Regions from separate parts of the Homo sapiens genome. Here region 2 is linked to region 1. Evidence: fine-mapped expression QTL. Tissue or cell type: whole blood. Region 1 holds a variant in brackets; the other region holds the start of a gene. All regions are shown on one strand. Distances are from middle to middle.

Region 1 (5,204 bases):
CCTCCCCTACGCAGCCCCAGCACAGGGGAGCCCACGGCGGCGTCCTCAGAATGAGATGCTGGGGGAGCAGGGGGAGGATTGTTTCACCCACTCTTGTCTCCCCGCGTCCCCCGCAGCAGCTCCCCGACGGCTGCAAAGCCCCCAGGCTGGTCTCACAGCTGCACTTCACCAGCTGGCCCGACTTCGGAGTGCCTTTTACCCCCATTGGGATGCTGAAGTTCCTCAAGAAAGTAAAGACGCTCAACCCCGTGCACGCTGGGCCCATCGTGGTCCACTGTAGGTACGCTGTGGGGGCCACGGGGCGGGACCCTCAAGGGCAGGCCACAGTGGGATGACTCATCCTCATGGGCAATGCCAGGGGACCAATATCAGGGTGGGCAGAGGTTTGGGCAGGGCTGATGTGAACACAAATGTCAGTGACTGAGCCAGGCCCCAAGAACCCTACAGGAGAATGTTCAGAGAGCCCCCTCTTCATCCCAGTCGATAAAACCCACCAAAGCCAGGAGGCTCCGGTTGATGGTGGGAATGGAGTTCTGGGCAGGTCTGCTTGGCCGCCCTCACCTCTCCCCGGGAATCCCAAGTCACCTCTGGGAACCAAGATGGAAATGAGAGAAAGCCCCCTGGTTTCTACAGGAAGCCCCCCAACAACACACAAGTCGTTATGGAAGAGCACACCATGCTCAGATGGGCCCCCACAGCAGAGTCTTCCAGAACACGCTGTCCTGGAGACCAGGGTCCGAGGACCAGGCTGCCCCTCGCCAGCTGCCACTTCAGCCTCGGTTTCCTCACCTGTGATGGGAAGGACAGCCTCGGCGGAGCCTGTGACTGGCATCTGGGTGGGCTTTGCACAACATGAAGAATTACTCAAATGTACAGCCAAGGCCACCCCACAACCCCCTGTCCACAGAGAGCCCCACTTGTTCCTGGCAGTGATTGGCCTCACCAGGGTATCACTTTGATTAGATACTAAGTTTCCATCTGTTACAGACAGGTTCATTCTGAGTATCACAGCACTGCCAGGGACAAAAGCCACCTGCACGCAGTGATGCAGGCGCTCTGCACCTGTCATGCAGGTGTTCACGAGAAGCCGTCCAGGAACCCCCGAAGAACGGGCTTTCCCCAAGTCTGAGCAACACTCGCTTGCTGGGGCCAAGCAGAGGCTGGACCCCACCCCACCCACCCTCCAGTGTAGCTCATACTGGGAAGAATTTGCAGGGTCAGATAACAGTAATCTGACAGATGCCACCTCACTTAATGCCCCGAGTCAGATGACTTGGTTTGCCCAGTTTGACAGAGAGGGAGGCTGGATACCAGAGCTGTTGCATAGTTGATCTGAGGTCCCTCTGCTCCCAGGGGGACAGATCTAGGATGCCAATCACACATATAAGAAGAAGACACTGTTTGGTAAGTGAGAAAAATTCTCCACACAGCCTAATCCGAGGCTTACTGCACCAGCTGTTAATGTGCCTCTTAGTAGAGTGTCGGTGGCTATCAGAGGACCGGCCTGAGATCACTTTACTGAGACCACAGCTCCCTCTGGTGGCTGCACTGTAGCTTTGCTCCTAATTAACCAAAAAAACAAAAAGTTGCATCCAGTGACCTGGGTGCGCAGGCCCCTTCGGGGCCTTTCATTTACTTCGGGAGGAGTGTGACTCACGACGCAGCATCTTTCTCTTTCCCCAAAGCGCGGGCGTGGGCCGGACGGGCACCTTCATTGTGATCGATGCCATGATGGCCATGATGCACGCGGAGCAGAAGGTGGATGTGTTTGAATTTGTGTCTCGAATCCGTAATCAGCGCCCTCAGATGGTTCAAACGGATGTGAGTCATGCCTTCCTCTTGCCCTGATCTAGCTTCCCAAAGCAAACCCGATGCCTTCGCCACACAGGTGTGCAGGGCCCTGGCTCTGATGGGCACGTGGCAACCAGCCTGGGCCTGGCCTGGCTTCGCTCCCCATAGCCTTCCCTGCCCACGCGTGGGACCTCAGGGACTCCCTCGTCCTCATCTTTCCCTCGTATCCTCATGTGAGATGGGGCAATCCTACTCCCCCAAACGGTGCATGTACACAGTGCGTGGCGTGCTCACCAATGTGAGGCTCTGCTGCTACCGTTCTCCTTACTCAAGGGCATAAATGGTCGTTATCCGTGGCCGGTACTCTGACTCTTGCCTCACACCTCCTTGTGTTGGCAAAAAGAGAAAAAGAAGAAAGCCGCCCTCTTTGGTCTGCCAAGCTCCACGTGGGCCAAGACTGCAGGGCAGAGTTGAGGGTGTGGGCACCCCTGGCCTCTCTGCAGATGCAGTACACGTTCATCTACCAAGCCTTACTCGAGTACTACCTCTACGGGGACACAGAGCTGGACGTGTCCTCCCTGGAGAAGCACCTGCAGACCATGCACGGCACCACCACCCACTTCGACAAGATCGGGCTGGAGGAGGAGTTCAGGGTGAGTACAGCTGACCCTCCTCTCCATCCTGGTGTAAGCAGCCAAGGGCACGAGGAAAACAGGTGACCATTTAAAGGAAGCCTCTTTCAATCACTTGCCCCTTAACTGACCTCAGAAAAAGCAGGGGCAATACCTGAGCCATGATTTACAAGGGAAGAAGGATCAGGTGGCTTTCAGAGCCTCATAGCAGCCCTACTAGGCACACATTTGTATTTCCCAATGCTAAGGAGGCTTCCTGGGTTGGAGAGTGGTTTCCTTTGAGCAGGCGTCCTTGCCAGCAGCACTAGTCCTCGGCTGAGCAATGTGCTCAGGAGTGTCAGAGGTTTAACTGTGTCATTATATCCTTCTCTGCTGCAGAAATTGACAAATGTCCGGATCATGAAGGAGAACATGAGGACGGGCAACTTGCCGGCAAACATGAAGAAGGCCAGGGTCATCCAGATCATCCCGTGTAAGGCAC[C/T]CGTGGCGTGGCTTGGGCAGGGCTGGGGCGGGGCTGGTGCCGGAGGCTTTCATCCTGGAGAAGCCATTGACCGCTTACCCCTGTGCACCAGGGTCAAAAGCAGGGTGTCCTCTGGCCTCAGGCTAAGGGCTCCTGTGTGCTGTACCAAATGTCAGGTAGAAAAGACACCTGTGAAGCACCAGCTGACCCAGACAGTCCTGCATGGGTCTCAGGCAAGCTGCTTCGGATATGAGCTTGCAGATGCGGGAGGGCAGCCGAGGCTGATTTCAGGGGAGGGCTTCACAGAAGCTGGAGATTTGCGGCAGGCACGACTTGGGATTCCTTGTCTCATTCCTTGTCTCCCCAAGCCTGGGCAGAGGCCCGCCTCCCCCTTACACAGAGGGGCCTGAGCCACCCAGCCGAGGCCATGCAGGTGAACTCAGCTGAGACCACCTAGGAAAAGGCTGTGGCCTTGAGGAGGACAAGAAATGGGCCTAGGGTAGAGTCAGGACACTGGTCTGCCACCCAGGTCATGGGAGAGGGAAGGAGGACCTGGCAGGTGTGGGAGGAGTGGAGGCAAAGCTGGCAAGAAGACAGGGCCACATGCAGTGGGCAGGGGAGTGGGAATCGGGAGGCTCACCAAGTGGGAAAAAGAGAAACTTGAGAAACCCGGCCCCAAAGCAGACTCCACAGGGATCCGAGGAACTAGGGAGGGAGGTGGGAGATGCCCCGCTTGGGAGGAGGGTGTGCCTCGTTATAGACTTGTCCTCGACAGAGTCACAGCTCAACAAACACCATCTGGAAACAGCTGGGAGCAGGCCTGCTGCAGCAGGGTCTCCCCGAGCACTGCAGGCGAGTAGAGCTCCCCGGGGTGCTGCCATCTTCAGACTCTGGCCCTTGGTTTTCTGGGGCCCCGGTGTCCTGCTGGCCACTCTAGATTGCTTGCCTGGCCACATTCCATTTACTCCTTCAGCGCAATATTTTTAGTGCTTGTATTTTGGTATGTATTATATCGATTCCTGAAAAATGAAAATGATAATTGGGTGGTTTTCAGAGTTTTCCTTCAAAAAGAAAAATACCCCTGAGCCACTTTAATTATCGTCTCTCATAACGTAAACTTTCCAAAGAGTTGGCTTTACGTAGTGATTTTATTAATAGGATCTATATTTTGCAAGCTTGTAGCAATGGATTAAAGTTAGCAAGGTGGGACCCTTTTTGTAATAACTAAAGGAAGATAATGCTTTGCAGATGACTTCAACCGAGTGATCCTTTCCATGAAAAGGGGTCAAGAATACACAGACTACATCAACGCATCCTTCATAGACGTACGTATGCTGGCCTGGGTTGTGTTTATGCAGATGTGTTTCCTTCACATGTGACCACAGACTTGATTAGCTTGTTTTCACAATGAGAAAGAATTGACATGTTTCCAGAAACTCAGCCATTTTTGTTAGCAGAATTACTTGCTTAAAAAAAAAAGTGGCAAGGCACGATGGCTCACACCTGTAATCCCAACACTTTGGGAAGCTAAGGCGGGCAGATCACTTGGGGTCAGGAGTTTGAAACTAGCCTGGCCAATATGGCAAAACCCGTCTCTACTAAAAATACAAAAATTAGCTGGGCGTGATGGCAGGTGCCTGTAATCCCAGCTACTTGGGAAGCTGAGGCAGGAGAATTGCTTGAATCCGGGAGGCTGAGGTTGCAGTGAGCTGAGATTACACCACTGTACTCCAACCTGGGCAACAGAGTGAGAGCGAGACCCCCTCTCAAAAAAAAAAAAAAAAAAAAAAAAAAGTGGACTTTGGAAATAGAAGGACATAGACTCGCTGCTAAGTAATTGGCTCTTTTTTCATTCTGCTTTTAATATATAGTTATTTTTCTTTTACATATCTGTTACACACCAATTATATATCCACTGCCTCTGTGCTCTTTCTCTTGTGTGATTTCTGCAATGTGTACCCACGTGGACAATACAATTATGTGTTCAGGGCACACAGAGGCTGTCTTCATGCACAGTGGAGTTCGCAGAAGAAGGGCAAAAGGGGGAATGGCAGCCAAGTGTGTGTTCATATTGCCATTTGCAGATGAGAAAATTGTACCAGAATCCGGTGGGCTCCATGCTGATCTAGCTGAAACACACAGAAACATGTTAGAATCTAAGCCACCAGGTGCTGTTCAGGTGGCCACAGGCAACTACCAGTTCATAATACCCATTTGTTGATGACCTCAGGGGCTGACGGTGGCCGTTATGGTTTCAGATAAGCGAGCTTCTTGACCTGCTTGTCAGGTGTGTGCCTGAGTGCTCGTGCCAACTGGGGTCT
Region 2 (5,131 bases), 160 kb before region 1:
GGGACCTTGAGCCTATGAGAGGCAAAAATGAAGATGGTGAAGAAGGATGAAGGGCTTCCCTGTGGTAATCAACAGGGCCCTGGCACAAACACTTCTGACAACACGCTTCTGTGTGACAATGATGAATGTCTGTAGACTTTAGAAAGGGTTGAGAATTTTTGGGGTCCAGCAGAGAAGATATTATGAGGAAAGAAGAGCCATCTGCCTCCCCATCATGTTACCAAGGCTGTTCACTTTCCAATAGCAGATGTCTGACAAAGGCAAGTTGTTTCTGTCTTCTTAGCTCACAGTCTCTGCCTCCTCAGCCCTGCAGCGTTAACAAGCAAAACTGTGCTTAGCAGAGCTTTGTAATTATGGCCTTCATGTACATAAGCCTGACTCTGTAGACCACAACAGCAGAAAAATCCAAAGCCTGGTGACGTCATGTGCTACCTGGCCCCACCTCAACCTGGGCTGTTCCTTGGAGGTGCACTCAGGAGGGAGCCACCCGCCCTGCTGGGCTCCGAGGTGACCAGGCTGTCTGCTGCTGCTGGCTGGGGCCCATCCTCCTCTGCTCTGACAGCCCAGACGCCTTCACTGAGCACCTCCTGGCTACTGACGTTGCTTTAGGAGCTTGAGTCTGAGAAGCCATGGAGATCAACAGAGCCTAGGCTGCTGGAGCTTACAGCCCTGGGGGTAGGGGAAGAGGGCACGACAGACACAAAAGGAGCCAATAAACCCACAAATAATTCCAAACTGTGATGGAGGATGTGGAAGAGAGTGGCAGAAGAGATGGATGCAGGGCGATCTTCCAGAAGCCACCAGTAAGAAGGAACCAGGTGCACTGGTTGGAGGAGTCCCAGGCAGGAAGGAGCTTGGCTCTGGCACTGAGAGAAAGGAGCCGTGATTGGAGCCCAGCGGGCAGGGGTGAGAGGCTCAGAGCAGCCAGGGAAGTCAGGCAGAGCCTCGTGGGAGTTTGGGTTTTAATATTCCTGGAGGCTTTTAAGCAGGGGGCTAGCAGGACCCGGTTTACACTTTGTGAGGTGCCTGGGACCAAGTGTGAAGAATGGATCATCTGGGAGAGTGGGTCAGAAGCTGGGGAGCCACTGCAGGTTTTGGAGGGGCGCAGGCAGTGAGATGAAAGGGCAAGATGCATGGAGAAGCCAGTGGGAAGTGGACTTGGGCCCTCTGGGAGGTGGACTTGAGGTGGGACACGGAGGCAGGGACAGGGACGACTGCAGAGAAACTAAGTAAGAGCAAGAGGCAGGTCTGAGACAGCAGGAGACAGCCAGGAGGAGCTGAGCTTGGAGGAGAGGGCCCCAGAGTGGTGCTGCTTAGAGTCATTCCCATACGGATGGTGTTTAAAGCTTTGGGGCTAGACAAGGCCCCCAGGGACAGAAATGGGCAGGGCAGGGCAGGGAGGTGGAGCTCAAGTTCTCCACTGGTTTCGCAGCTCTCCGGCCCCTGTGGAGGGGAAGTCCCACTCTGGGCAAATCACGTGGGGGTGGCCTCTGCCAGGAGGCACCCATTGCTCTGCAGCCTTTGGGGTCCGTAGCTCTGTCTAAACAGGCCTTAAGTATGCTAAGAGTCGTCGGCTGGCAATCGGTGCAACGTGGGGTAACACACCGTAAGTGCCACTTTCTCCCCATCCATTCATTCATTCATAAGCCTAATGAGCTGGGTCCCTACCACAGAATGCAGCTTCCCTCATGAGGGCTGGGCCGTGGCCCCATCCAGAGGGCACGGCACAAAGGTTCAGAACCAACATGCCACCAGTGTCTTTTCTGCTCCTTCCAGGGAACTGCCTTTTCTCTGAAAGCTCCCTAAATAGCTTGAGTGAAATTCCCTGGAAGAAGTCGGCTAGACAGCAGGCCCAGTGCCTGGCTCTGTCGCTCTTCTTTCTCTTTGTGCGTTTTTAACTTTGACAGATACTGCCTTCGGGACAAGCGAGCCCTCTTCTACATCCCCCAGACAGGCGCCTTATCCCCTCCTCTTTCCAGAGGAGGCCACCAGGCCCAGCGACCTCACAGCTCTCCCAGCTTCCTCGCACCAGAAGCGCACGGGGTGCCCTGCGTGTCCCACACCTGCTGCAAGACCAGGGCGAGTCCCTAGTCAGGCCACTTCCTGGTGCACAGGGATAGGGCAGGGAGAGGCAGGGCCTTGCCTTTGCTCTCCACCAGGTGTGAGTGCCTGCCATACCCTGACCCTCTGTCTACGCACCTGGGTCCCGGCGGAGTGGCTGGACCAGGCCTCCCCGGAAGGGGCACCAGCCTTGAGTAAACGGATGCCCACAGTGTCTGGGTGCTCCCAGGGCAGGGCCGCAGGGCCTCAGGGCCATACCCGCCTCGCAGGTGGGGCGGGCGCCCTGGATGCGCTCCCCGCGCCGGGCACCAGGCGTCGCCCCCGCTCCTCGCAGCGCCCAGGCCCCCGCCCCCGCCGCGGAGCCACAGCCGGAGCTGGAGCCGAGGCGGCGGCGGGACGCGGCCGGCCGGACAAATTTCCTGCTAGGCTGCGGACAGCGGGCGGCAGGAGCCGGCGCGAGCGGCTTCAGGAACCCACGGCCTCTGCGCGTCCCCGCGACCCTTCTTCGCGCCCGGCGAAGACAGCCGGGCGCCCCGGAGGGCGGCGGGCAGGCGCCCGGGAGATGCGGAGCCTCCGCTGCAGCGCGATCTGCGCGACCAGACCGGCCCCCCCGAGGTGAGCGCGCGTGCGGACAGGGACCCTGCGCCCCTGTGGGGAACTGTGCACCCCGGGAGGCCCAAGCAGGCCGGGGCGCTGCCTCGGCCGCTGCCGCGGGAGGGAGGGGCCGCTCCGGGGCTCAGAGTCCGGACCCCGGCCCCGCCGCCCCCGCGGCGCGCCCAGTACCAGCGGCTGGGGCCCGTACGACCCCCGACCCCGGCCTGTGGCGCGTCCCCTCACCCGGAGTCCCCAGCCCAACTTGGCGACCACAGTGGCAGTGCTCACGCTCCCTCTCGGTAAACAGGAGGAGGGCGCGCGTGTCTGCGGGTGGCTACAGTGCGCGGGGGCCGGCGGCAGGGCGGCGTACGTGAAAGCGGGCGACACAGAGAGGGGGTGCAGGCCGCGCGTGGGGGGCTGCGCCCACTCGAGGCTGGAGGCTGGAGCCTTTGAAGAAAGTGGCTCGAGTTGTGCCAACTCTGGGAGGGGCCGGCGCTCTGCCAGGATGCTGCCCCGCAGCCGGGCGGGCGCCCGCGCCTTCCCAGGGAGGCAGGTGGAGCGGGATGCAGCAGCCGCCGGGGGTCGGAGATGCGGCAGGGAGACCCTGGCAGGTGGTCCAGGCTGGACTGCCGCGATTTGCAGGGTCGACGACCTCACAGGGCTCCTGAGCACAGATGCGAGCGCGGTGCCAATTCTGAGAGCTCCCGGGACCATCTGGGGAAGGCCGGGCAACCCACAGGATGGGGAGGCAGAGCCAAGCCGGATGGAGACCGCGCTGGACCTGACCTAAATTCCTTCCAGGCATGCAAACCTTTCCAGAAAGATTAGGCAATTATACTTGCAGAATTATGATATTGGTTTGTCTTGAGTCGTGACCATTCCATCAGAGTTTCAATCCAGGAAACTCAAAGAAAGAATACAGCTCTCTGCTTGTATTTTAGAGTGAATGAGCGTATAGGTGAGTTGAATGAACACCAGCAAAGAGTGATCACGTGATACAGAAATTACTGTGTCCATGTCCAGTCAGCTCTGCATTTGGCCCCAGGTACCCCTTGACCCAGGGCGTCTGGAGGTCTTTGTGTCCCAAAGATGGATGAAGTTCTGCCTCTGCACACTAACGACTCTTGTCCATTTAAACTGTGTGTATGTGGGTGGGGAGGGGGGGTGTGGAGGGTCGTTTCCAAAACTGGGATAATGGCCAGAGGAGGGCATGAAATGGTGGGGGCCAGTGGCTGGGGCAAGCGTCTGACCACCACGGTCACTCAGCCAGCATGGTATGGGCAGAGCTCTGTGGTGTGAACAGGGTTAGGGTCTGTACTTTCCAAGCACAGGCTCTTGGCATTTGGGGAGCAAAAGGTCAGAGGCGAGGTGGAGCAGGCCCAAGAGGTGGGGGCTGCGCTGTCAGTGAGAGAGGCCTGACGTACCACCCAGCCCTTCCCAGACAAGGCTCTGCCCCTGAATCTGACCTTGGGGGCCAAGATTTTTGTTCATTGATGTTGGTGATGCCTGTGAGTCACCACCGCCCCCTCCCTGCCCCAACAGACCGTTCCCATGTGGACAAGAGCTAGGAGCTAGATTTGTCTCTGTAAAAGGTCAGGTCACTGGATGTGTCCAGATGGCTTGGGACTTAGTCACACACTCCCTCATCAGTTCCAGTCAAACCAGTTGAGGGAAGTCGATGAGGGTGTTATTGTCTTTACGTGTGATGCTTCTTGGAGGCCCTGTGTGGACACAAAGTGAGGACAATGCGGAAAGTCACACAGAGGCCACCTCTCATTTCTGTGGGGGACAGCTGGCAGAGAGAGATGCGCTCCCTGTGTCAGCACCGCCACCTCCACGGAAGCCTGGAGGAGGTCCTGAAGCACTGTGCCCTGATGGGAGCCCCCTCTTCTCCAGGGATGCGTGTGTGCAAACCATTGCCCCTGAGAGTAGATGCGGCTGTGTGTGTACATCCTTGCCCCTGAGAAGAGAGGTGGCTGTGTGTGCAAATCTTGCCCCCAAACCCCAAGAGAAGATGCATTCACAGTGGGGGTGATGGTAGATGCATCAGTTTCAACTGGTGAAAGTATGCTTCTCCCAGCTGTGCCTCAGTGGGTCCACTGTGCTCCATCTGCACCACCATTAGCCTAGTCTAAGGTGCACCGCTGATCAATATTCCCTCCCTGAAGGCCAGAGGTGTGTTTCTAGGCCCGGCCACTCCTCTGTAGTTCTCCTCCGCAGCTGCCCACTTGACATTTCTCCCTGGGATATCAAATGCCCCTTGACTCAATGCGTCAAAATCAAACTTGTGATCTCCCCTCCCCTTCCAGTACTTTCCCAGTGTTGTCTTTATCCATCCAATTCCACCAGCCTCCATGTTGCTTCTGAAATGTATGCCAGACTATAGTTTCTGTGAAGAGAGGGCAATACTGTATCTCCAGTGCCCAGCCATGTGCCTACCAGTGGAGCCTTGAGGACTACTGTCCATGGATAAACA

The links. PIP is the estimated chance that this variant, and not a neighbour inherited with it, causes the effect.
Region 2: PTPRE starts here. The variant in region 1 is fine-mapped to the expression of PTPRE in whole blood (TOPMed, PIP 0.97).

What each region holds. Positions count from the first base shown.
Region 1 is chr10:128,068,007-128,073,210 of GRCh38, forward strand. It overlaps PTPRE (protein tyrosine phosphatase receptor type E), which reads left to right. Exons shown (of 21, transcript NM_006504.6): 12 at 117-280; 13 at 1,686-1,821; 14 at 2,295-2,444; 15 at 2,802-2,895; 16 at 4,132-4,208. Among named protein-coding and RNA genes, the nearest start is that of AS-PTPRE, 8.2 kb to the left of the region's middle. RefSeq lists a silencer at 1,333-1,530. The variant C/T (reference allele first, on the strand shown) is at 2,905.
Region 2 is chr10:127,904,634-127,909,764 of GRCh38, forward strand. PTPRE (protein tyrosine phosphatase receptor type E) reads left to right here and starts at 2,470. Exons shown (of 21, transcript NM_006504.6): 1 at 2,470-2,676. RefSeq lists a silencer at 2,314-2,433.